Linked DNA regions of Homo sapiens. The protein of the gene in region 1 purifies or fractionates together with the protein of each later gene. This does not show direct contact. Each region holds a gene or a part of one and is shown in the gene's direction. Other genes may lie near its edges. The genes, in order: MAP2K3, POLD3, HNRNPUL1, HAT1, PDAP1, LPAR1 and HPN.

What was found.
Region 2: the proteins of MAP2K3 (region 1) and POLD3 purify together in Homo sapiens (tandem affinity purification; one large-scale study listed by IntAct). This does not show direct contact.
Region 3: the proteins of MAP2K3 (region 1) and HNRNPUL1 purify together in Homo sapiens (affinity purification with mass spectrometry, with the first as the bait; one large-scale study listed by BioGRID). This does not show direct contact.
Region 4: the proteins of MAP2K3 (region 1) and HAT1 purify together in Homo sapiens (affinity purification with mass spectrometry; one large-scale study listed by BioGRID and IntAct). This does not show direct contact.
Region 5: the proteins of MAP2K3 (region 1) and PDAP1 purify together in Homo sapiens (affinity purification with mass spectrometry; one large-scale study listed by BioGRID and IntAct). This does not show direct contact.
Region 6: the proteins of MAP2K3 (region 1) and LPAR1 purify together in Homo sapiens (co-immunoprecipitation; one large-scale study listed by IntAct). This does not show direct contact.
Region 7: the proteins of MAP2K3 (region 1) and HPN purify together in Homo sapiens (co-immunoprecipitation; one large-scale study listed by IntAct). This does not show direct contact.

What each region holds. Positions count from the first base shown.
Region 1 is NC_000017.11:21,291,211-21,294,710, forward strand, and holds part of MAP2K3 (dual specificity mitogen-activated protein kinase kinase 3), read left to right. Parts: intron 1-3,500. UniProt on the Homo sapiens protein: Dual specificity kinase. Is activated by cytokines and environmental stress in vivo. Catalyzes the concomitant phosphorylation of a threonine and a tyrosine residue in the MAP kinase p38.
Region 2 is NC_000011.10:74,599,082-74,602,581, forward strand, and holds part of POLD3 (DNA polymerase delta subunit 3), read left to right. Parts: intron 1-3,500. UniProt on the Homo sapiens protein: Accessory component of both the DNA polymerase delta complex and the DNA polymerase zeta complex.
Region 3 is NC_000019.10:41,305,330-41,308,287, forward strand, and holds the end of HNRNPUL1 (heterogeneous nuclear ribonucleoprotein U-like protein 1), read left to right. Parts: intron 1-316; coding exon of another isoform or gene 317-346; coding exon 347-538; intron 539-1,119; coding exon 1,120-1,236; 3' UTR 1,237-2,458; downstream 2,459-2,958.
Region 4 is NC_000002.12:171,974,461-171,977,960, forward strand, and holds part of HAT1 (histone acetyltransferase type B catalytic subunit), read left to right. Parts: intron 1-1,696; coding exon 1,697-1,848; intron 1,849-2,231; exon of another isoform or gene 2,232-2,998; intron 2,999-3,500. UniProt on the Homo sapiens protein: Histone acetyltransferase that plays a role in different biological processes including cell cycle progression, glucose metabolism, histone production or DNA damage repair. Coordinates histone production and acetylation via H4 promoter binding.
Region 5 is NC_000007.14:99,398,598-99,402,097, reverse strand, and holds part of PDAP1 (28 kDa heat- and acid-stable phosphoprotein), read left to right. Parts: intron 1-1,673; coding exon 1,674-1,795; intron 1,796-3,500. UniProt on the Homo sapiens protein: Enhances PDGFA-stimulated cell growth in fibroblasts, but inhibits the mitogenic effect of PDGFB.
Region 6 is NC_000009.12:111,028,471-111,031,970, reverse strand, and holds part of LPAR1 (lysophosphatidic acid receptor 1), read left to right. Parts: intron 1-3,500.
Region 7 is NC_000019.10:35,040,251-35,044,520, forward strand, and holds the start of HPN (serine protease hepsin precursor), read left to right. Parts: upstream 1-1,470; 5' UTR 1,471-1,622; exon of another isoform or gene 1,623-2,202; 5' UTR 2,203-2,256; coding exon 2,257-2,272; intron 2,273-4,270. UniProt on the Homo sapiens protein: Serine protease that cleaves extracellular substrates, and contributes to the proteolytic processing of growth factors, such as HGF and MST1/HGFL. Plays a role in cell growth and maintenance of cell morphology.

The sequences.
Region 1 (3,500 bases):
TCCAGCCTGGGCAATAGAGAGAGAATCGTCTCAAAAATAAATACAATACAATCAATACAATAGAATACAATACAATAGAATACAATACAATAGAATACAATACAATAGAATACAATAGAATACAGTACAATACAATACAACACAACACAACACAACACAACACAACACGTAGTGATAACAGTGAAGCACAGATGGCGTTTGTTCAGGTTTGTTTTCCGTTCTGCAGGAGCAGCAGCACTGGCCTGTCGACAGTGCAGGTGGCTGGCAATGGCCTTGCTGACCTCGAGCCGGGCCCACGTGGGGACCTTTGGAGCACAGCCTACGATCCTGGTGCAAGGAATGTCCCATTCTTCTGATGCTCTGGGAGGGCTGAGCATCACTTGTGGGTCCCCCTGCCCTGTCATGGCCTCTTAAAGCCTGAGCATGGGGCCTGCCCCACAGTGTGGGAGCCTGGGGCCAGAGTCCCACCGATCTGACCCCTTTTGTGCTGGGGATTTTGTGTGCATGGACTTGTTTGGTCTTCACGGCTACCCAGCAACCTGGGTGTGTTGTCATCAACCCCATCTTAGGAGTGAGTAAACTGAGGCCTGGTGGGATAGTGACCTGCTCAAGGTCACGAAGGACTGTCCTGGGAGCATGGCTTTGTCTTTACAACTCCGGACCCTTGCTCATCCTTTCCCAGAGGTCATGGCCCCTTCACCCGTTCATAGGACGTCAAAGGAGGAAACCGAGGCTTGCACAGAGAGGGAGTGTGGCTCGCCCCCAGGCTGGCACGGGCCGACGCTGTGGTGGTTTCTCCACTGAGGTGCGGGGAAGGCAGGAGCTGGGACCCAGGCTGGGGGCCTGACTCTGCTGCTGCCCTGGTGCGTCACCTCAGGCGTGTCCTGGGGCCCCTGGTGTCAGCATCTGCACTGGACAGTCTCTGGGGCACCCTCCAGCCTGAGCAGCCTGCTGCGGGGGCTGTACTGTGCTCAGTGAGCCTGGCTGCCCCTTCAGACAGAGGAGAGTGCTGGGGCTGGCTTCAAGCAGGCCTCTTTGTTTCTTCTTTTCTTTAAATTGCCTGCACTTGAGTAGCCTTTATCACACAGTGCAGGAATCTCAAAGGGACAAAAAGGCAGTCTCTTGTTTCTCCTCGGAATACTCTGCACACTCCAGCATTTTCTTTCCTTCTTCTTCTCATTTTTTTTTTTTGAGACAGTGTCTTGCTCTGTTGCCCAGTGGCACAGTCATGGCTCACCACAGCTCAGACGATCCTCCCACCTCAGCCTCCCAGGTAACTGGGACTACAGGCACGCACCACCACGCCCACTACATTTTTGTTTTGTTTTATTTTTTGTAGAGACAGGATTTTGTCATGTTGCCCAGGCTAGTATTGAACTCCTGAGCTCAAGGAATCCACCCACCTTGGCCTCCCAAAGTGCTGGGATTACAGGCATGTGCTAATTTTTGTATTTTTAGTAGAGACAGGGTTTCACCATGTTGGCCAGGCTGGTCTCAAACTCCTGACCTCAAGTAATCCTTCTGCCTTGGCCTCCCAAAGTGCTGGGATTACAGGCGTGAGCCACCTCACATGGTCTGACCGGCATTTTCTTTCTCACACTGCTGTACTCCTGCTGCTCTTGGCTCTTCCTGTCCCTGGGAGGCCACTCCTCGCATCCTGCTGAGGACCTGCAGGATCCTCACCAATTCCATGTGCCAGCCTTTTGATTCTATAAACCCTGGGCCTCAGTTTCCCCATCTGCAGCATGGAGATCACATTAGTACCTGCCTCAAGGGGTTGCTGAGAGGATCAAATGAGATGTAATGAAAGAAATTTGCATAGGCCAGGCACGCAGAGGACACCCCAGGACACCCCAGCACATAGTAGGTATTCACTAAATGTTAGTGGGTGTTGTAGTGTGGGGGTAAGCTGCTCAACGTGGAATTTCTGGATGCAGAAGAATGGGCATTTTGATGGCCATGGGGCATGGAGGACCCAGACCGGTGAGGTCTGGCCATGGGAGGCCAGGCTGCACCCTGATGCCCGCAGCCACCTGCTGTGGGCCCCCTGTCTTTCACGTGCCTTGTGCCCCAGCCACTCTGCCCGGGGTCCTCCCGTGTTGCCTCCTTCCCTCTCCAGCGAGGCCCGTGCCTCTGGCCCTTCCCTACGTCCTTCCCTCCAAAGCACAAGTGGTTCCATGTTGCAGGCGGGCCATGGTTGTCTCTGCTGGGCTGTTGGCATTGGGCGGGAGGACCCTCTGGCAGCCATGGTTGCCCCTGTGCAGCTGAGCATCTGGCCTCCCCACCGGATGTTAGGGGTGCTCCCGAGCCATGCTGGTCCGGAGCATCACCGGGGAGGGGGCGCTGCCAGGTGGATAGTCTGGGGATCCCCCGTTCTCTGCAGGTGAGGAAGTCCCTGTAGGGTAGAGAGGTGGGGAGGGTGTGAGGCCCTGGAGGCCAGGCCCTGGCCAGGTGGCCTTGCACAGCCGGGCAGAGGCAGGGCAGGGCTGTGGAGGGCAGAGCCTTGGTCACTCCTCCTCACCCTAGCCTGCTGCACACCTACAAGGTGAGGATAGAGAAGGTAGGGCCTGCAGTGGCCGTGTATGAGGCCAGATGGCACAGCCTGGGCCTGGCATGGAGCAGGCACTTGGTTAGATGGGAGAACCTTCCCCTTGTCCTGCATCCTCTCCAGAGCCCAGGACAGGGGCCCCAGAACCTCAGGGCAAGGGGCCCTGCCTGAAGGTGCATGGCCACCCCCTGCTGCCCACAGGTGCTTGGCAGTGGCGTCTGCAGTACCTCAGGACCTCTGATGGCACCTGTCCTGGGGAGAGGGGCCAGTGTCTGGCAGGTCGCAGCCAAACACATCCATCCACACCGTCGAGGTACATCTGCCCACGCAAAAGCCTGTGCCCACTTCTCGGGGCCTCAGTTTCCCCCGTGCCATGGAGCGCATTGGCCTTGTTGCTGTCCCTCTGAGGGACCCTGGGGAATAGAGGTGGCCTGGGGCAGGGCGGCGCCTCTTGCTGCTCACATCTCCCAGCCCTTGTGGCTCCTTCCCTGGCAGGCCCAGAACTTCTGCAGTAGAACAGGGACCTCCTGGAACATCCGGAAGTCAGGTGAGGGCAGTGAACTAGGAGCAGGGATTACTTCTGTTGTCAGAAACCTGGTGATGCTCCTGCATGTGGCATGGTGTGGGGCTGACTTTATGAGTGGAGGCGGAGCAGGGGCTGCAAGGAGGGGTTGTCATCTTGCCCCTGTGGGTGACCCTTAGAGGGTCACACAGCTTGGTCTCCCCAGGCCCAGGGTAGAGGGAGCAGCCGAAGTGGGGGCCCTGCCCTCAGGCTGTTGCTGTTTGGACGTTGGAGCCAGACAGACCTGCCTTTATGGCCACTCCTCACCAGACGCCCACCGTGTGGCCTCTCTAAGTCACCTCTTCTCCCGCATGCTTGATACAACAGATAAGTGAACCTCCCCTACTCCCTTGTGGAGTCACTGAGAGGGTGGACAGGGGTGGTCTGGGG
Region 2 (3,500 bases), on another chromosome or scaffold:
GAGTGCAGTAGTTCAAACATGGCTTCCTTTAGCCATGACCTCCTAGGCTTAAGGGATACTCCCACCTCAGTCTCCTGAGAGTAGCTGGGACCACAGGTACATGCCACCATGCTAGCTGATTTTTTTATTTCGTAGAGTTGGGATCTTGCTGTGTTGACCAGGCTGGTCTTGAACGTCTGGACTCAAGCAGTCCTCCTGCCTCAGCCTCCCAAAGTGCTGAGATTATAGGCATGAGCCACCATGCTCGGCCTCACTATAGTATTTTCACAAACATTTCTCTCAAGTAATTTTTTTTTTTTTTTTTGACGGAGTCTCGCTCTGTTGCCTAGGCCGGAGTGCAGTGGCGGAACTCAGCTCACTGCAACCTCCACCTTCCAGGTTCAAACGATTCTCCTGCTTCAGCCTCCTGAATAGTGGGGATTACAGCACCTGCCACCACGCCTGGCTAATTTTTGTATTTTTAGTAGAGACAGGGTTTCACGATCTTGGCCAGGCTGGTCTTGAACCCCTGACCTCGCAATCTGCCCACCTCGGCCTCCCAAAGTGCTGGGAGTACAGGCTTGAGCCACCGTGCCTGGCCTCATACTGTTTTTTTTTAGCATTATTTCAGGCTATGTCATACAACAGTAAACCTGACAGACAGGGTCCCTCCCCTGGTTGATTTAAACAAGATAATTTCAGACTGTGAAAATGCTGTGAAATAATTAAGTTGGGTTAGAGAAAGCGGTATGGGCAATACACTGTACTCATCCTGGGGAACATTATGGGTGGAACTGATCAGGAGGGAAGATTAATGAATTAAAATGGGAAGCTATAATTAATCATGTGTAGGAAGTGTATCTTGTAAGAAGTCATATATGTTGTTATTATTATTATTTTTTTTTTTTTTGAGACAGCTCTGTTGCCCAGGCTGGAGTACAATGGTGCAATCTCGGCTCACTGCAACCTCCGCCTTTAGAATTCAAGCAATTCTCCTGCCTCAGCCTCCCGAGTAGCTGGGACTACAGGCACATGCCACCACGCCTGGCTAACTTCTTGTATGTTTAGTAGAGATGGGGTTTCACCATGCTGGCCAGCTGGTCTTGAACTCCTGACCTCGTGATCCGCCTGCCTCGGCCTCCTAACATGCTGGGATTACAGGCATGAGCCACTGTGCCCAGCCTGTTGTCATTCTTATTTAAGAATATTTTATATTTTGTTTATTAAAAAATATTTGGCTTAGGCTGGGCGCGGTGACTAATGCCTGTAATCCTAGCACTTTGGGAGGCCGAGGAGGGCAGATTGCCTGAGCTCAGGAGTTTGAGACCAGGCTCAAGCTATCCTCCTGCTTCTGCCTCCCTGAGAGCTGGGATTACAGGCGTGAGCCACCACACCTGGCGCTACTGAAATACAAAAATACTAAAATACAAAAAATTAGCCAGCGTGTGCCTGTAGTCCCAGCTACTTGGGAGGCTGAGGCAGGAAAATCACTTGAACCTAGGAGGCAGACATGGCAGTGAGCTGAGATCGCGCCACTGCACTCCAGCCTGGCGACAGAGCGATACTCTATCTCCAAAAAAACAGAAAAGTTTGGCTTAAATTAGATAAAACATGTTTTAAAGACTCAAAAAGTAGGCAGGAATTCTTTCCTTTTTTTTTTTTTTTTTTTTTTTTGAGATAGGATTTTGCTCTTGTTGTCCAGGCTGGAGTGTGATGGCACGATCCCAGCTCACTGCAACCTCTGTCTCCCAGGTTCAAGCGATTCTCCTGCTTCAGCCTCCCGAGTAACTGGGATTACGGGCATGCGCCACCATGTGCCCGGCTAATTTTGTATTTTTAATAGAGACGAGGTTTCTCTATGTTGGTTAGGCTGGTCTCAAACTCTCAACCTCAGGTGATCTGCCTGCCTTGGCCTCCCAAAGTGCTGGGATTACAGGTGTGAGCCACCGCACCCAGCCACAAGAATTGTTTTTTAAAATAAGAGTTTGCTTTGCATTTTCTGTTAATATAAGAGAGAAGAACTGGGGTCAATTTGGGGAGACAAGTGCATAGAGGACAATGACTGATGATATGGGCAGGACTATTAGTTGTGGATAAAAGATAGTGCATTTGGCCAGCAAGCTTGCAAGCATTTTGGGCATGGTACCTGCCTATCATGTCTTCCTTTAGCATGGTCCAAACTAGCATCAATAAACCAAAATGTTTGTGGATCTGTTAGCTCATTTATCCTTCTAACACAATTGTTGTAATGGAAAGAAACATTAGAGGGCAAAGAGGAGGAATCAGCAAAAATCCTGACTAGGGCACCTTTTTGTACTCAAGGTGTTAACAGTCTAGAGGGGATGCGTCATATGTAAAATAAATAGTTAGAAGGCAGGGTGATATGTGCTGTAATAATAGATATGGGATAAAATTTGTTAGAGCTTGGATGGCAGAAGCTCATTGTCTAGGCATGATGGCTCACTCCTGTAATCCTAGCATTTTGAGAGGCCAAGGCAGGAGGATCACTTGAGCGCAGGGGTTCGAGGTCAGGCTGGGAGATATAACAAAAGCCTGTTTCTACCAGGAAGAAAAAATAATAACCAGGCATGGTAGCATGCACCTGTGGTCCTGTTTACTTAGGAGGCTGAGGAAGGAGGATGGCTTGAGCCCAGGAATTCAAGGTTATAGAGAGCTGCGCCACTGCACTTCAGCCTGGGCGACAGAGTGAGACTCTATCTCTTAAAAAAAAGATGTGCCCTGGTGACCTGATGGTGTTGGGGAAGGGTTCATACTTCATAGAGGAGGTGACAACTGAGCTGCTGTCTTGATGAGAAATTAGGTAGTTGAGGCCTGAGAAGAGCCTTCTAGGCAGAAGGAAGGGCATATACAAAGGAATAAAGAGAATTGTAGAATGTTTCATTAAGGATGAAGATAGTGTAGGTATGATGGGGAATGGTCAGAGATACAGAGCCCAGAACAAGAAGGGTCTTACCTGTCATTGCTAGAGATTTGAAGTTGATCCTTAGGGGATGAGAAGCTACTGAAAGCTTTGTTACACTTTTTTTTTTCTCCTCCCTTTTTGTGGAACATGGGGTCTCGCTATATTGCCCAGTCAGGTCTTGAACTCCTGTGCTCAAGCTATCCTCCTGCTTCTGCCTCCCTGAGAGCTGGGATTACAGGCGTGAGCCACCACACCTGGCGCTACTGAAAGCTTTATAACAAGGAATTATGTTTCAGACAAGACTCTCTAGCAACCTTTTCAACATCAACAGTGACTAATAGGCATTGCAAATTTAATATGCCCCCAAACCTAACTCCTGACTTCTCCCCTCAACACCTGCTTTTCCTGCTTTTCCCCCATCTCAGTGAATTACAGCTTCCTTCTTTGGGTTGCCTAGTCCAGTCATTTTTGACTCTTCTTTCTCTTACACTTCAACACAGTATATCAGCAAATCCTGTTGTTTCTCACTTTAAAATATACCCAGAATTCATCCACTAATTACTACCTGCACTGCTACTGCCCCAAACTGAGCTACCAG
Region 3 (2,958 bases), on another chromosome or scaffold:
TTGGATACCCAGGGCAAGCTAAAGGAGTTGTTCTTGTTCTATTGTGATTCTCATTTTATAAAAAAGAAAACTGAGATTTCAAGAAGTGCCGTGTACCTTGCTCCCTGGGGGTCTCAGAGCTGGGGTTAGAGTCCACATCACAGCCCTGGGGCTTGCCCTTCATCCTGCCCTACCATGGCATGGAGCTGGCTCTCCTCCTTCTCAGCCCACAAACAATGTCCACTAGGCAAGGGAAGGGCCCCTGTGGGCCAACCACTTAAAAAGGCCCTTTTTCCATCCCAGCATTTCACATCTGCAGATTTCCTCTATTTCACAGAGCTTTGGCTTTTTTCCCTCCACTTTCCAGCCGAGTTACAGCCAGCCACCCTACAACCAGGGAGGTTACAGCCAGGGCTACACAGCCCCACCGCCTCCACCTCCACCACCACCTGCCTACAACTATGGGAGCTACGGCGGTTACAACCCGGCCCCCTATACCCCACCGCCACCCCCCACTGCACAGACCTACCCTCAGCCCAGCTATAACCAGTATCAGCAGGTAGGTGCCAGACTGGGGGCCAACTGGATGGAGAGACTTCCATGGGCCCCTCCTGGGTGTGTATTCCCAGACTTAAGTCCCTGCTTATCCCTAAAAAGACAGCCTGCTGGCCTCGGCCTGGCGTTCATCTGGTGCAGCCATTCCATTTGGTCAACACTTCTGCACTGGTTGCTAGGTAATTGGTATCCTAGCCCCCTCCACAGTCTAGCAAGTGAAGGGGAAGGGCTGGCCTAAGTACCAGGGGCCTCAGAGTCCTCTTTCAGCACCATAGACAGGGGGCTCCAAATCCTGCTGCAGGTTGGTGCCCAGGCCCCCATACCTGTTACTAAATCTTTTGACTATGATATCTAGCTATACCCAAAAGGCACTGGGTTGACAAGCTGAGACCTGGGCTTCAGTCCCTAACTGCCTACCTGTGTGGTGTCAGGTCTTTCCAAGGTGCCTTGATTTCTCTGTCAGGGGACCTGTGTTCAACTGTTGTCACTGCAGCTGTCTCTGCCCTAGGTGAGGGTGGGGCTGGTGGGGAGGCTAAATGTGTGGTGGATGCAGGACAACTTGGTGTTCTTGGTTTCTTTCCCCAGTATGCCCAGCAGTGGAACCAGTACTATCAGAACCAGGGCCAGTGGCCGCCATACTACGGGAACTACGACTACGGGAGCTACTCCGGGAACACACAGGGTGGCACAAGTACACAGTAGCCAGTGTGACCCAGAGGCTCCCGGAGGCCCCTGCCGGCTTCCTCCACCAGCGCCTGCCTCGGCCCCTCCTCTGCCCCCGCCAGATCCCGTGGTGCTGGGGATGGGGTCATCCCAGGGCTGCCTCCCTCCAGCCCACTGCCTCCCCTCTGAGGGGCTTCCTTCCCCTCCATAGGGCCAGGCATTTTTTTCTGGATTCAAACAGGCAACAATGACCTTTTATTTTCTGTTTGTCCCCACCTCCCCAGCCTTCCACCTCCTGTTCTTCCTACCTTCTTCCTTTTTGACTAAATAATCCCCACCTCCCTTGATCATACAGTGAGGCTACAGTGACTGAGGGGAGAATCCCCTCCTGTTCACTCTCCCAACCCTGCTCCAGCCCCTCAGCTTCCCAGACCCTCATGCAGTTGGTTGTAAATTCTCCCAGGAGCTGTTTTACTGTCTACTTTTCAGGATTAAAAAAAAAATCAAAACTTAAAAAAAAAAAAGTTTAAAAAGCAAAATGGGGAGGGGGAGGAAGCAGTGACTTTTTTTTGGTAATTATGCGCTTTTTTTTAATTTTTAGAATTTGTCTTTTTACTGTGGGTGGGCTGTTGATATTTCATCAAGATAAGCATTTCTTTCCTGAGTTCAGGTGACTGAGGAAGAGCCACAAAACAAAACACAACAAAACCAAACCACAGAATCATCTTTAACCCAACTTTTTATACGATGCCCCAGTTCCCCATAACTTTGCACACAAGCTTCTGTGTTCAGTTGAATTGTAACTGCTTTTTGTATTTGGAGAGAGTGACTATTGAACTTGAAACCTTTTATTCCGGGCGTCTTGGTAGTTTCTGGTGGGATTCAGTGGGTGAGAGGGAAGAAGGGGAGGTTGGGGGGCTCCTTCCCTTCAGAACTTGAAGTTTCTCCCACTGCCTCCTCTCCAGTGGTCTCCCAGGTGCCAGACCCAAAAGCTTTTCCTACAGTGATACCCTTTATTTTTACTTCCCCTTGACTCATATGTTTTAACATGATTTTAACAAACTGCACTTATTAAGAAATGTGTTTGCCCTGTTTTGTTTGGTTTCGTTTTGTTTTCTTTGAATAAATGACATGGCACCTCCTAGCAGGAAGGAAGCAGGGTTGAAACCCTGAAGTGTTACTGCAGTTGGCCGTTAATTGGGGTGGGGGCCTCTTTAAAGGGAAATTATTTACTCATTCATTAAACAACTTAACTGAGGGATTCATGTGCCTGGCCCCGATTTTGGTGCTAAAAATGCACGCTTAAACAAGGGTCCCTGGTTTAAAATCCACTAGTTCATTTTTAAAGTGCTTCTCTTGTTCTCTACCTCTCACAGTCTAAAATCCCTCCAGGAGTTTTTGAGTAAAGGACATGGAACAGGCCTCTAGGTGGAGGGATGGGTGGGACTGATGGGGCAGAGACCAGGGCTGGTTTGTTTGGCATCATCACTGGGCATCCACAGACCACCTGCCTCAGGCCTGGCCTGTGTGCAGCACGGAGGACAGTTCCTGCCTGTTCTGTGTTTGGGGCTCATGGGGATTCCAGGAGCTTCATGTTTCAGCCAGTGTGTGTGAGCCACCTGCTGTGTTCTTCAGCTGTCCTGGACAGTGCTGGGGACATAGTATGGCCACGGCAGTCCTGGACCCCGTTCTCACAGAGCTCCCACTCCAGAGAGAACAAAGACCTGCCAGCACCAAGTGGTCAGCTGTGAGAGCCTGGGG
Region 4 (3,500 bases), on another chromosome or scaffold:
TAGTTGCAGTAGTTTTTTGGTTAGAATTTTCCACATACAGGATCACATTGTCTGTAAATAAAGACATTTTTACCTCTTCCTTTGCAGTCAGATGCATTTTCTTTCTTTTTCTTACCCGATTGCTTAGCTGAGAACTCCAATATAATGGTGACTGGCAATGGTGAAAGCAGACATCTATGCCTTGCTCCCAGTTTTAGAGGGAAAGCATTTGGTCTTTCACCATTGTGGATGATGTTAGCTATAGCTTTCATATGTGTTAATTATGAAATTGAGGCAGTTCCCTTCTATTTCTAGATAGTTGATTATTGAGCGTTTTTATCATGAATTGATGTTGGATTTTGTCAAACGCTTTGTTCTGCATGTATTGAATTTTTCTCATTTATTTTGTTAACATGGTATATTACATTAATTGATTTTTTTTGGATGTTAAACCAACTTTGCATTTCTGATATAAATCCCATTTAGTTCTGGTATGTAATTCATTTTATATATTGCCAGATTTGGTTTGCTAATATTTGTTGAGGACATTTGTATCTACATTCATGAGGGATATTGATTTGTAGTTTTTGTCTTAGATCCTTAGTGTCAGCATAACTCTGGCCTCATAGAATGAGTTGGAAAGTGTTTCCTCTATTTTCTTTCTTTTTTTTTTTTTTTTAATGGAGATGGAGTCTCACTCTGTTGCCCAGGCAGGAGTGCAGTGGTACCACCTTGGCTCACTGCAACCTCTGCCTCCCAGGTTCAAGCGATTCTTCTGCCTCAGCCTCCCAAGTAGCTGGGACTACAGGCCTGCGCCACCACTCATGGCTAATTTTTATATTTTTAGTAGAGATGGAGTTTCACCATGTTGGCCAGGCTGGTCTCAAACTCCTGACCTCAGGTGATCCGCCCGCCTCAGCCTTCCAAAGTGCTGGGATTACAGGTGTGAGCCACTGTGCCTGGCCTGTTTCCTCTATTTTCTAGAATAGTTTGTGAAGGATCATCGTTATGTCTTCTTCAGGTTGTTTCATGGAATTTACCAGTAAAGCCATCTGGTTGTAGACTTGTCTTTGTGGGAAGATTTTTAGTTGGTAATTAAATGTCTCTGTTATAGTCAGTTCACATAGTCATTTACTTTTTGAGTCATTTTGGTAATTTCTTTCTAAAAGCTGTCTGTTTCATCTAAATTGTCTCATTTGTTGGCATAAAGTTCATGGCATATTCCCTTTTAATTCTTGTGATTTTTGTAAAGTTGGTAGGAATATCCCTTCTTTCATGCCTGATTTTGGTAAATGTTGTTTTCTCTCTTTTTTTTCAGTCATTCTAACTAAAAGTTTGTCAATTCATCGATCATTTCAAAGAACCAACTTTGTGTTTATGTGAACTTGTCTATTTTTGTTTTCTTTTTCATTGATTTCTACTCTATTATTATTATTGCTTCTTATTACTTTGGGTTTAATTTGCCCTTCCTTATCTAGTTAAGAGTGACTCTTAGGTTATATTGATTTGATGTCTTTTTTCTTTTCTTCTTTTAGACAGAGTCTCGCTCTGTCACCCAGGCTGGAGTGCAGTGGTAGAACCTCCACCTCCCAGGCTCAAGCGATTCTCAGGCCTCAGCCTCCTGAGCAGCCTAGCATATATGTTGAGATTGCAAAAGATGAAGAAATTATATTGAGTATCAGGGAAATGTTAATATTATTCTGCTTTATTTATTTAGCGGAAGATCCATCCAAAAGCTATGTGAAATTACGAGACTTTGTGCTTGTGAAGCTTTGTCAAGATTTGCCCTGTTTTTCCCGGGAAAAATTAATGCAAGGATTCAATGAAGATATGGTGATAGAGGCACAACAGAAGTTCAAAATAAATAAGGTATTTTTATTCTGTAGGAGGAAAACAGATTTAAATTACAAACAAATTTTTGAAGTGTATACCTTAACTAAAATATTATAAAGACATTAAGAATACATGTGTGGGAACTAGCAATGGTTAACAGTACAGCTTTGAAGCCAAATTGCCTGAGTTCAAATCTAGCTCCAACACTTGCTCTGTGATTTATGGCAATTTAATTTACCTCGTGCCTCAGTTTCCTCATTAATAAAATGGGAAGATAATAGGTGTTATTGCTATATTAAGCATAACAAGCAGAGGAAAGATGGATAATAGGATCTTATTTTTACTCTTTAAAGTAGTTGTACCCCTGGAGACATTATTGGTGGGAAGAATGGTTGAAGTAAAACACGTATTTCATTTTATATACTTTTATATATTTATTTAAATTTTAAAGTGGTAAATGTCTTAAGATAGGTACAGAAAAAATAAATATGGAAGTTCAGAGAAGAAAGTTTATTACATTTATGTAAGCAAGGAAATCAGTGGTTATTTCATAGAAAGGATGGCATTTGATATAAACCTTGAAGAATGAGTAGGATTTGGATTATGAAAGTATGTGAGATGGGCTGGGAGTGGTGGCTCACGCCTGTAATCCCAGCACTTTGGGAGGCCGAGGCGGACAGATCATGAGGTCAGGACATTGACACCATCCTGGCTAACATGGTGAAACCCCACCTCTACTAAAAATACAAAAAAGCTGGTCATGGTGGCATGCGCCTGTAGTCCCAGCTACTCGGTAGGCTGAGGCAGGAGAATTGCTTGAACCTGGGGAGGCGGAGGTTGCAGTGAGCTGAGATGGTGCCACTGCACTCCAGCCTGGGCGACCGAGCGAGACTCCATCTCAAAAAAAAAAGAAATTTGTGTAGGCCGGGCGAGGTGGCTCACGCCTGTAATCCCAGCACTTTGGGTGGATCACGAGGTCAGGAGTTCGAGACCAGCCTGTCCAATATGGTGAAACCATGTCTCTACTACAAATACGAAAATTAGCTGGGCGTGGTGGCGCGTGCCTGTAATCCCAGCTACTCAGGAGGCTGAGGCAGAAGAATCGCTTAAACCTGGGAGGCGGAGGTTGCAGTGAGCCGAGATCATGCCACTACACTCCAGCCTGGGCAACAGAGAGAGACTTCATCTTAAAAAAAAAAAAAAGAAAAGAAATTTGTTTAATAGCTCAGCTTTTAAAAGAACAGGCATATGAATATATATATATATATATATATATATATATATATTTTTTTTTTTTTTTTTTTTTTAATGGTGCTTTCTTAAAAAAAGAATTCAAACTCCCTACCTAGAGCACAAAGAGCCCATGATAATCTGGACCCTGCCTACCTTGCTAGCTTCAGCCTGTTAGTACTTTGCCACATGCTCTGGCTACTTTGCCACATGCTCTGGCTTTACTCATCTTCTAGCCATTTCCCAACTCTGCCACATCCTTCTTCCTTCTGTATTCCTTTACATATTCTGTTCTCTTTACCTGAAATACTCCCTTTTCCTAATTGCCTGGCCAGATAGTACTCATTTTTTCAGGTTCAACTCAGGTTCCCTTCCAGGAAGTCAGAAAATATTACCTTCCCAACCTATCCATACCCCAACTCCCTGCCCAAATAAATACATAAGTGAAACAACATCAA
Region 5 (3,500 bases), on another chromosome or scaffold:
TAGCGTTTCACCATGTCAGCCAGGATGGTCTCAATCTCCTGACCTCGTGATCTGCCTGCCTTGGCCTCTCAAAGGGCTGGGATTACAGGCGTGAGCCACTGCGCCCAGCCTCCAGATATGCTTTTAAAAGATTATTTTACTTTGGGAAGCCAAGGTGGGTGGATCACAAGGTCAGGAGATCGAGACCATCCTGGCTAACACAGTGAAACCCCGTCTCTACTAAAAATACAAAAATTAGCCAGGTGTGGTGGCAGGCGCCTGTAGTCCCAGCTACTTGGGAGGCTGAGGCAGGAGAATGGCGTGAACCCGGGAGGCGGAGTGCAGTGAGCCAAGACTATGCCACTGCACTCCAGCCTGGGCGACAGAGTGAGACTCCGTCTCAAAAAAAAAAAAAAAAGATTATTTTAGCTTCTTCATGGAGAGTGAATGATAGGATGTTGAGAGTAAGAGCAGTGTTCAGATCAGAAATCCTGGGCCGGGTGTGGTGGCTCACACCTGTAATCCCAGCACTTTGGGAGGCCAAGGCGGGCGGATCACCTGAGGTCGAGATTTCGAGACCAGCCTGACCAACATGGAGAAAACCTGTCTCTACTAAAAATACAAAATTAGTCGGGGGTGGTGGTTCATGCCTGTAATCCCAAATACTCAGGCTGAGGCAGGAGAATTGCTTGAACCCAGGAGACCGAGGTTGTGGTGAGCCGAGATTGTGCCATTGCCCTCCAGCCTGGGCAAGAAGAGGGAAACTCTGTCTCAAAAGAAAAAAAATCGTGGCTTGCCCTAGGATGGTGACAATGGCAGTGGAGAAGAGTGGACAAATTTAAGCTGTATTTGGGGGTTGCTGAAGGAACGACGAATCAAGGATATGCTTAGGATTGCAGGGAGGGTCCGGTTGGGTAAAGGATGAATCTCGAGTTCTGTCTTGGACATGTTAAGTTTACAGTGCCAGGCATCTGAGTGGAGGTGTAAGTGTGCAGCTGGACTGGAAGTGTGTGGAGGGAGCTCTGTGGAGTGGAAGCTGTCTCCCTGCCCCCTTAAGGAGAATTGATGGAATTGACAGGGCCTGAAACTTTGACCAAACCTGCTGCATTGAGAACACACCCCCTTCTTCTGGAACTTCTGCAGGGGAGGTGGAAGGTGCAGATTCCAGGTTTTTGGGCCAGCGTCCCAAACCTGTAGAGTGTGTGATCCAGTAGCTTATTCTTGGGTTACAAGTCCAGTCCATCAGCTAAGGTGGGTGGGAATTGGAATTAGTCATGACAGCACACACTTGGCCCACCCTGCCCTGGGGATTCCAGCCCAGCGCTTTTTGCAAGAAGAATCAGGCATGGGATTCCATGGAAAACTGCTTTTGGAAGCCGAGCTTGAAGTAGGGGAGTAGTGCTGTGTGAGTGCTTGCAAGTCGGGGTAGGGCGCACCTCTCATCTACCACCTACTTCCTGGTTGACTTGGGCAAGTTATTCGACCCCGAGCAGCCGTTCTGTGGGCTCTTCCCAGGCTGATGAAGATGCTCCAGAGAGCTATACCCACTGTGAGACTTGGGCTGAGCACTACGTGGGCTGGGGTGGAGCAGGAGTTTGTCCTCATCCAGATGGGCTGTTGAGAGATGGCAGGAGTGGCCCTCAGGGGCTCCACAGGACCTGAACTCCAACAACCAGCTTCTTGCCCTGTTCTAGCAAAAGCGCAAAGGCGTTGAAGGGCTCATCGACATCGAGAACCCCAACCGGGTGGCACAGACAACCAAAAAGGTCACACAACTGGATCTGGACGGGCCAAAGGAGCTTTCGAGGAGAGAACGGTAACATCACTGGCTGGGCCTTGTGTCACGGGGAATACAGGCCAGCAGTTGGCCTGTGGGATGCTAAGGTCCCCAGCTGGCTGGGAGCTGTGGCTGTTTATTTCTGTCTCATTCCCCAATGGCCCTCCAGTAGCCTTTAAAAAGCCACACAGAATTTGTTTTCACCAATTGATACATGATATCAGGGGAAATAGGACAACAGGCTCAGACCTGAGCATAACACTTGAGGTAATGGTGCAGGATACAGAGGGTTGCCCTCCATTCCCCTCTTCCAGAGCACCACACCCTGGGGAGACTTCCCTTACCCCACTGATCTGACCATTCCTGACCTGCATCCATCTGTAATGTCGTGGCCATGGGGACTGGAAGGGGGCTGCGAGCCTGTGCCGGCCAGAAGGCAGTCCAGCCCAGCGCAGCTCAGCCAGCTGTCCCAGGCCTCTGCAAGTCCTGTGTGAAAATGAAGCTGTAAATATCTTCCTCAAGAGTCGTATGAGGATCAAGATCATGTACTGAAGTGCCTGGCACAGGATCAGTCCTTGACTGGTGCCCTGACTTTTGGCAGCCACCAGGTGACCTCAAGGGCCTTACAAGAGGTTGAAGCCTGCTAGTTTCTCTCCTGACTGGGAATTTAGGATAATGGCTGAGGGGTGTGTCTGTGAAAGCCTCGTGGGGAAGGCCATGAGCTTGGGTGTGATTGCAGCTGCTAAGGACCCTTCTGTCCCCCTTCAGTAGCTTCCTCTTGGCATTGACTTCAAAAACCCAGCAACCTGGGTGTTCTGCCACTGTGGTATTCTGCCATTGGCAGCTGTGCAGCCTTCGATAAGGCTGTGCCTTTCTGGGCATCAGTGTCCTCTCCAGTAAAAGGGATCCTGTTGCTCCCTCCTTCTGTCCTTTGGGGTTGCAGAGACACCCTGCCTGGCATTTTGCTTTCACTGAAGGGCCCTGCAGAGTCTTTGGGCTGCCTTAGTCATCATTCCTGAGGCTCAGCTTAGAGGCTTCTGAGTGTGGCACATCCCTCCTGAGCTAGGATCTGCGGTTCGCCAGGTATTATCTCCTCAGCTCTGTAGTGAGGCATCTGCTCTTCCCACTCGGGAGTCCCTCTCCCTCCCCTCTAGCTAGCTCCCATGCCTGGTTTCTCATTACTCCCCAGTTCTGTGTACCTTGAAGGCCTCTGGGAGGCCGAGTCTCTCTCCCAGCCTCCTGCCAGGCAGGGCCCTCCCCTCCTCCAGCACTTGGCTCTTCCAGGAACCCAGTGCAAATAGGCCCTCCGATCTCATCCTGAAGGGCATCCACTCCAGTTCAGAATCTCAAGCTTGGGAAGATCCTCAAAAGGAAGCTAATGACCCTCACCACTGACTCTACTTAGGGGGTTCATTCCTGACACTTTGTCCCATGGGAGCCCAGCAATTATTCCCATCTCCCTACTGATGGGGGCTGTCCCCTTGGGGGGCAGCACCGTGCACATCTGAGCTGCTCTAAGAATGGGCCATGTGGTGTTGACCTGAGACTGGGTGTGTCTGTTTCCCACTGTGGTCCTCATCCTATGCCCTGTGGCTGCTTCCTCCACTTCTTCATTCCTTTTTTTGTTTGTATTTTTTAGAGATAGGATTTCACTCTGTCACCCAGGCTGGAGTGCAGTGGTGCAATTGTAGCTCACTGCAGCCTTGAACTTCTGGGCTCAAGCAATCCGCCTGCCTCAGCCTCC
Region 6 (3,500 bases), on another chromosome or scaffold:
AAGTTCTTTTAGAATGCCTTCAAACTCAGGCATATGTATCTTGTTATTCTTCCATTTTAGGAACATTTTCTCCAAGGTAGTCTCAATACTTTGAGGTGAGTTGGCCTTTCCCTTTTAAGGAAGGAGACCACAGAGCCCGGTAATCTCCTTTTCATTTTATATGCTTGAAATATTTTGCTAGGATTTATCTGTTTTAAAGTCTAGAGATAGACATAGCTGTGTTTTATCTGTAGCCCTGCCTTGCTTCCATCTCATTTTCCCTATTCTTACTTTTAACCCAACTTGTGTTTGAGATTCTTTGCTCAGTATATAGTTTGCTTTCTAGAATAATTCAAACCTAGTGCCTGTAGAAAGTCAGACTTATTTTTTATTTATTTGAGATAGGGTCTTGGAGTGCAGTGGCATAATCCTGGCTCACGGCAGCTTTGACCTCCTGGGCTCAAGCTATTCTCCCACTACAGCCTTCCAAGTAGCTGGGACCGCAGGTGTGTGCCGCTATGCCTGGCTATTTTTTTTCTTTTTCTTTCTTTCTTCTTCTTTCTTTTTCTTTTCTTTTTTTTTTTCTTTTTTTTTTTTTAAAGAAATGGGCTCTCACTACATTACCCAGGCTGTTCTCAAACTCCTGGGCTCAAGGGATCCTCTCACCTTGGCCTCCCAAAGTGTTGGGATGACAGCTGTGAGCCACCGCATCTGGCTAATACTTATTTTGAAGTCACCCTGTCATGGTGCTTTGCTTCACTAATGTATTTCACTTATGATCTTGAAGTCACTCAGGGATACAAACACAATAAAATGCATCCCAACCAGGAGAGGGTAGCTGCATTCATTTACAAAATTTTTTTTTGCAATGATTCAAACACTATAGATGTGTCTAAAGTAAATGTAAAAATCTCTCTCTGCCACTTTAACCTTACCCATCTGATATCAGTTTGTTCCATAGCCTTCCATAGTTGTCCTTTTACTTATACAAACCTACAAAAATTAATATTTATGTATATTTATGTGTGTGTGGGATAAGTGTGGATATGTTTATACATACTCATATGTATGTTTGTGTGTGTATCTGTCTGTGCCTGCCTCCATTTTCTTTTGCTTTAGAGAGGCTATACTTGAGGCTGCCATCAAGAGTGAGAAGTTTGAAGCTGGAAGAGCCTGCATGGGCCCTTCTTGAACTGGTGCAGCATGTGCAGCATGACATCACTCAAGAGTTCTTGTCAGAGTGATAATGAATGTCTGGCTATTGTAAACGGGAATAAGAAAACTATTTCCAGCTGTGTGACAACCAAGACGACAAAAAGCATTGCAGAGAATATTATTGCCACAAGGACCCTGCTTCATCTGGGTCTCAGACGACGGGAGGAGGGGCATTTTGGAGCACGTGTTTGGCATCTGTGAACCTTTTGTTAGGTAGAAAACAAGGCCTGAATGAAAGGCCTTTCAACCACTTCTGGAGCAGAGAAGATAGGTAGAGTTACTCATTATAGGCAGGTTTCATTGTAGGAGTATTCAGTGAGGACCCCCGCCTTGGAAGTCTGTAATCAGCAGATGATAAGGATGGTGTGTTCTTACTAAGAGAATAACACAACTGAAACAGAATTGCCTTTTGTTAAGGGGATGCTTTGCCTTCTTGGACTACGATTGTGGGGAGAAGGATTATTGTCAACTAAGTGAGGCATTCATTCTGTACCCACTATTTATTGTAGTTCCACAGAGAACTGCTTGCTTTACTTTCTGACTAGGCACAGAAAAGTAAAGGTTCAAAGGCTAGGGCAAGATGACTGACTTTTCCAGATTTAGCACAATCTGTTCTCTGGTCACTTTGAGACGCTGTCAGTTTAGTTTCATGCAGCTGATATCTTGGAGAACTTCTGTGTCCTTACGTTTGGCTGAGGACACTAAATTTTTTTTTTTTTTTTTTTTTTTTTGAGGCAGAGCCTCACTTTATTGCCCAGGCTGGAGTGCAATGGCACGATCTTGGCTCACTGCCTCCTGGGTTCAAGCAATTCTCTTGCCTCAGCCTTCCAAGTAGCTGGGACCACAGGCGTGCACCACCATGCCTGGCTAATTTTTTTTGTATTTTTTGGTAGAGATGGGGTTTCACTGTGTTGGCCAGGCTGGTCTTGAACTCCTGGCCTCAAGTGAACCACCCGCCTCGGCCTCTCAAAGTGCTGGGTTTACAGGCCCAAGCCACCGTGCCTGGCCTGAGGACACTAAAATTAAAAAAAAATTAAGAAAGTACGGTCCCCGCTCTTGAGTAGCTCATGAACATGGAGCGATATGGACTCAAATGATTAAGATCAGGTAGGTAGTGATGAATACGGTAAACCAAGTTTCAAACAAAGAGCTGTCTGCATATCTGAGGATGGAGAGGGTAAGTCAGCCTTAGAGGAGGGAAATGACTTGCAGCAGGATGCCAGCCTCAATGGTCTGTGGAGCTCATTCCATGCAGAAGAGTAATGAGGAAGACCCAGTGAGTGACAGGCTTGGGGAGGAGTGCCTGAAATTGACGGTTTGTGGCAGGAAGTGGTGGGACCAATCTCGAAGCTTGTGGAGGTAGAAGGGTACTGGAGACTACTGTGGACAAAAAAGGGCATGTTGATGCCATTACCAGACAGGACACGAGAGCATGATGATTGTTGCAGTGAGGCTTGTTAGTTTTAGACATGTCTAAAACCATGCAGGCAGAGATTTTCAGCTGGTGGCTGGCAATTTGAGTTTGAAGTTTAGCTGAGAAGTCAGTTGGCAGTATTCAGGCATAATTGCTAAATGTAGAAGTAAATGCCAGTAAAATGTGTGTGATAAGCTGGAGAGCACTTTTAGAGTGAAAAGATTGATATATTTTAACAAGGACAAGGCTTATTTCAATTCTTTAGGTTATTTTTCTTTAGCAGATTAAAGTAGTTTTATCGGTTATCAAGCATTTGTTGAGCGTTTACTATGGCTTCTCTTGATAGGTGGTCCTGGGGAGATAGGAAGGAAATGGTGCAAATTTCAACAATACCCACTGGGGTGAACAAAAAATCCCTGAAACACCCCATTCCAGCTATTGTTATCTGGAAAAAAATCCTTACAATAATTAGATGGTGATTTGACGTCTGGGGGAAGTTGCAGATATAGTTTTAATTTACTGTAGGACTAGTGGCAGTGAGTCTCATATTGCTGTCATATAAAAGGTAAACCTTCCAGAAGAACTTTGGAAATTTCAGTAGCCTAAAGACCACGCTTTGAGAAACTCGTAAAGGTTTGTCATAGAGGTTTTAAAAGTCTGATCAAATAATTTTAAGCTTTAGTTGCCTACTAAAAAGTAGGATGCAGTACAAGTTTGTCCTTTACTTGGTAAAAAAAAAAAAAAGTCTTTTTCTAATTAAGAATTTATTTTCACCTTAGATAATTTTATTGGCATGCCTTTTTGCATGCAAGATAGAAAAAAGACAAGTTTATTCTTAGTTTTCTTTTTTCTAAGCCATTATGATTCTTTTAAATTATACTCATTTCAATTT
Region 7 (4,270 bases), on another chromosome or scaffold:
CCCCCTCCCCGGCATCATTTCCCCTCCCGCTTCCTCCGGCTGGACCTGGGGTCCCCCCTCCCTGTAATGCACTCCTGCCCCGGCCCAACCTCGCCCTCTCTCACCAGCCTTGAACTGTGGCCACCTAGAAAGGGGCCCATTCAGCCTCGTCTCTTTACAGAAGTAGTTTTGTTCATGAAATAAAGACTCTTGGACTTGATGCATAGTTTCGATTGTGAGCCCCGTCACCTTCCCCCCATTCCCGTCCCCGAATCTTCGAGCCCGCTTTCCAGGGACCCTACCTGAGGGCCCACAGGTGAAGCCACTTAGTGCCTGATCTGTGTCGGGGTTGGGGGAGCCATGGGCTCAGGGGTGAGGGAGAGTGGAACGGAGCCAGGAAGGGAGGGGGTGCCGTGGAGGGAAGAGAATCGAGGCTGATGCTGGGGTGCAGGGGTGGCATGGGGTGTGTGGTGTGCCCAGCAGTGTGAGTCTCTGGAGAGGTGGGCGCTGGGGAGAAGGAGAGGGAAGGAGAGACGGGTATGGATGGAAAGGCAGAGGAAGCCAGGCTAAACCAGCGTGTCCCAATGAGGGGCCCTGGGCTGAGTGGAGGAAATGGGTGCGGTGGAGGTGGGTTTGGCTGGGCACAGCGGGCACGTGTGGGTAAGCGGGTGGGGCCGGTTGTGCGGGTGGCCTATCTGGGGCAAGCAGCCGAGGCCGACTGTGTCCGGCGTGTGGTTGAGCACGGGCAGGTGTCTGGCGGTGACCCTGCACGTCTGGTGTTTACCTGGCCCTGGGTCTGACGTGGGCCGCGCCTGGCTGCTGGCGGGACAGTGTGTTATCTGCCTGCGGACGCTTCCGGCCACTTGGCCTGGGCCTCTGCCCTTAGCGCTGTGTTTTCCCGGCCAAGCCCCCCATCCCCCCTATCTAGTGCTAGGACTTTCTGGCTCCAGAGGTCACCGCGGCCGGGCGGAGGCTGCCAAAGCAAACCAGCCCCGTGACTTGTAGGAAGCCAGCGGGGGAGGGGCCGGGGCAGGATGAGCAGGGCAGGCGGGAGAGGCTGGGGCTGGGGTTGGGGCCCAGGAATTGGGCAGGGAATTAGGCAGAGGTGCAGCAAGTGGCGGGCACAGCCAGGACCTGGGGCTGGAGGACGCAGAAAGGGCGGGGGGAAGGGTTCGCTGGGTGAGGGTGGAGTGGGCTTAGGGCAGCTGGGGCCCTCCATCTGATCTCTTCTGGTCAGACCCCCACCCTTCAGCCTGCACTTTCTCCCTAAACCCCCAGCCTCCGGCCAGGCCTGTCCCTGTTCCCACATCCCCGCAGACAGGCACACCTGGGTCCCCCTGGAGGTCCAAGGCAAGCCCCGTAGCTGGGCCCGCCTGGTCCAGCCCCCACAAGCCCGGCCCCATCAGCCAGGTGGCCTCCAGTGCTGCCAATCGAATGGTCCGGCCCCTCCCCGCCCCTTCACCCGCCCCTCGCCCAGCCCCCTCCTCCTCAGGTGAGGCAGCCTGGCCTAGCAGGCCCCACGCCACCGCCTCTGCCTCCAGGCCGCCCGCTGCTGCGGGGCCACCATGCTCCTGCCCAGGCCTGGAGACTGACCCGACCCCGGCACTACCTCGAGGCTCCGCCCCCACCTGCTGGACCCCAGGGTAAGGACAAGGGCCCCCAGACTCACAGTTCCAGCCCTGAGGACAGGGGTTCCCTCATCCCCCCACCCAGCCTAATGCCCACCTCCTAATAGAGGGGTTCCTGGGGACCTGAAGAGGGGGCACTATGACGTCCCCCCAAGCACCTAGGTGTTCTGTCCTGCTCTTCCTTCAGACTCAGCCGTTGGACCCCAGTCCTTTCCTCCCCAGACCCAGGAGTTCCAGCCCTCAGGCCCCTCCTCCCTCATACTAGGGAGTCCTGGCCCCCAAATTCCTCCTTTCCCAAGACTTATGATTTCAGGTCCTCAGCTGTCTCCTCCCTCAAACCGGGATCCTCAGTCCCCTGCTCCACCAGGCTCAGGCATGGGGGTCCCCATCCCTGCAAATCCAGGCGTCCCCCCGCTGCTGGTCAGACACTGACCCCATCCTTGAACCCAGCCCAATCTGCGTCCGTGATCACGGCGTGCTCTGGCCAAGGCCCAGTCCCTACAGCCTGCCTGGATGGACGCCTGGGACTGGGGGCGCCAGGACTGGGCTGGGCTGGGCTCCCCCAGGCCCTGCCTCCCCGTCCATCTCCTCACAGGTCCCACCCTGGCCCAGGAGGTCAGCCAGGGAATCATTAACAAGAGGCAGTGACATGGCGCAGAAGGAGGGTGAGTCCCCTTCCCTGAGCCCCAGCTTTGGCTCTGCCTGGCGCCCCGCCCTCTGTGCTCTTTTCTCTACCCTCTACTCTTCGGAGCCCCCTCTCTCTGGGCACCCCTCCCAGATGCATCCCCACCCCTGTTAGTCCTCCTCCACCTGATTAACTATTAACCACATTTTCTGTGCAGCTGTGCCACCACCAGCCTCCCTTCTACCCTATGTGACCTTCCTGGCGTGCTGCCTCAGTTTCCCCTCATCCCCCAGTGATTTCTCAGCTAACTCTGGACTTGTCCTCTGCTGGGGCTGAGGCGGGGAAGCTGTAGCTGTCATGGTTAAGGACACAGATTTGGAGTGAAACACACAGGCTTGCATTTGAATTTGCTCTTGCCATCTTTTTTGCTGTGTGATCTGGTGCAAGTGACATTATTCTTAGGGCTTTGGTCTCCCTCTGGGTCAAGCATGGATACCAGTCCTCCCTCTGTGAGGTTGCTGAGTGCATGACACACACCAGGCACTGGTCTGGGGCTCTGCATATAAGACGCATGCCATCAAGCAGAGCTGTCATGACAGAGGTTGGCAAACTCGGAGTCCCAGAGACCCAGGACCCCCACCGATCCCAGACATTCCTCCACCTCCTGGCTCTGTGGGCAAAAGAGCAGAGGGAGGACTTTGGACTGGGCCTGGATGGATGGAGAGGGGAGAGACGGCAGAGAAACCACCATAAGGATGAGAGAGAGAGACTGCGTCATGGAGTTGCTGGCCCTTGGGAGTCTCTGGGCAGCCCCCAGCTAGCCTGGCTTCCTTTCTACCTCTCACACATGGGACCCAGCTGGAGGGGCGCATGGAGGGGCGTCCTGTTCTTTCTGCCTTCCCCTAGCTGGGGCTGACTCCCTCTCTTCTTCCGCAACCAGGATAGCCGGGCTCAGTCCTGGGCAGTAGCACTTTCTAGCTGTGTGGCCCTGGGCAGACGGCGTGTTCTCCCTGGGCCTCCATTCTCTCATCTGTGAAATGGAGAGGGTGACAGTGCATGTCCAACAGCGTGGGGCGAGGCCTGAAATGCCAGGATGGGCAGGAAGCACTGAGCGTGTTGGCTGAAATGATTAGTTCAGATCTCTGGCCTCCTCGGGTCTCGGCACAGCTGGCAATTCAGACCCCAAACCAATCAGCTGCAGTCCAGAGGGAACCCAGGCTCCCAGTTACTCAGGAGAAGGCATTGCACCCTAGCCGAGCAGGTGGATGACAGAATCCAGCTCCTTGGGGACAATCTCTTTCCTGGAGCTGCCGGAAGGACAGCCCCAGGGCTTGGGCCCATGGGTGAATGAGCCAGGGAAGAAAAGCAGAAAATGCCCGAATGGACAGAGATGGCCTGGGTACAAAGAGAAACAGACACAAAGTGGGCTCTGGTGCCTCCCTGGCAGCTCCGGGCTGGTCTTGGAGGGGAGTCCTGCTGTCAGGGCTAGGGGTGTGGAGGTCGAACCTGGACACAGATGCTGAAGGGTTCCGATTCTGCACTTACTTGCCGGGTGACCCGGGTTTGGTGGCTGCCGGACTTTGGGCCTCCTTTTCTCATCTGTAAACTGGGGGTGATGGCAATGGCGCCTTCCTCGTGAACAGCTGCAAGGATTTAAGTAAGGATGCTGTGCAGGACTGGACGGGGTTAGGGTAGGGCGGTGCGTCCGTGTGTGATTCAGAGAGCCGTTGTGGCTGCAGCGGCTGCTGTTGTTGGTGTCACTGTTATTGCTGCTGGCTTCTTGGTGCTGCCTGGAAACTTGGAATTGGAGGAGGTGATACTGGAGTTGCAATTCCAAGGATGCCAGGCAGAGGGAAGAGCAAGGCTCTTGCTCTTCTCTGGGAAGCTGGGAGGTGACACAGCACTGGTGTGCACGTAGCCAATTGTGGTATTTCTGGAGGTGAAGCTGGAAGTTGAGCTGGGTGGGAGAAGAGGTGTGCAAGCTGGACCAGGCAGGGGTGGGACTGTTTTGGGGAAGAGCTGGCCAATTCCTTGCAGT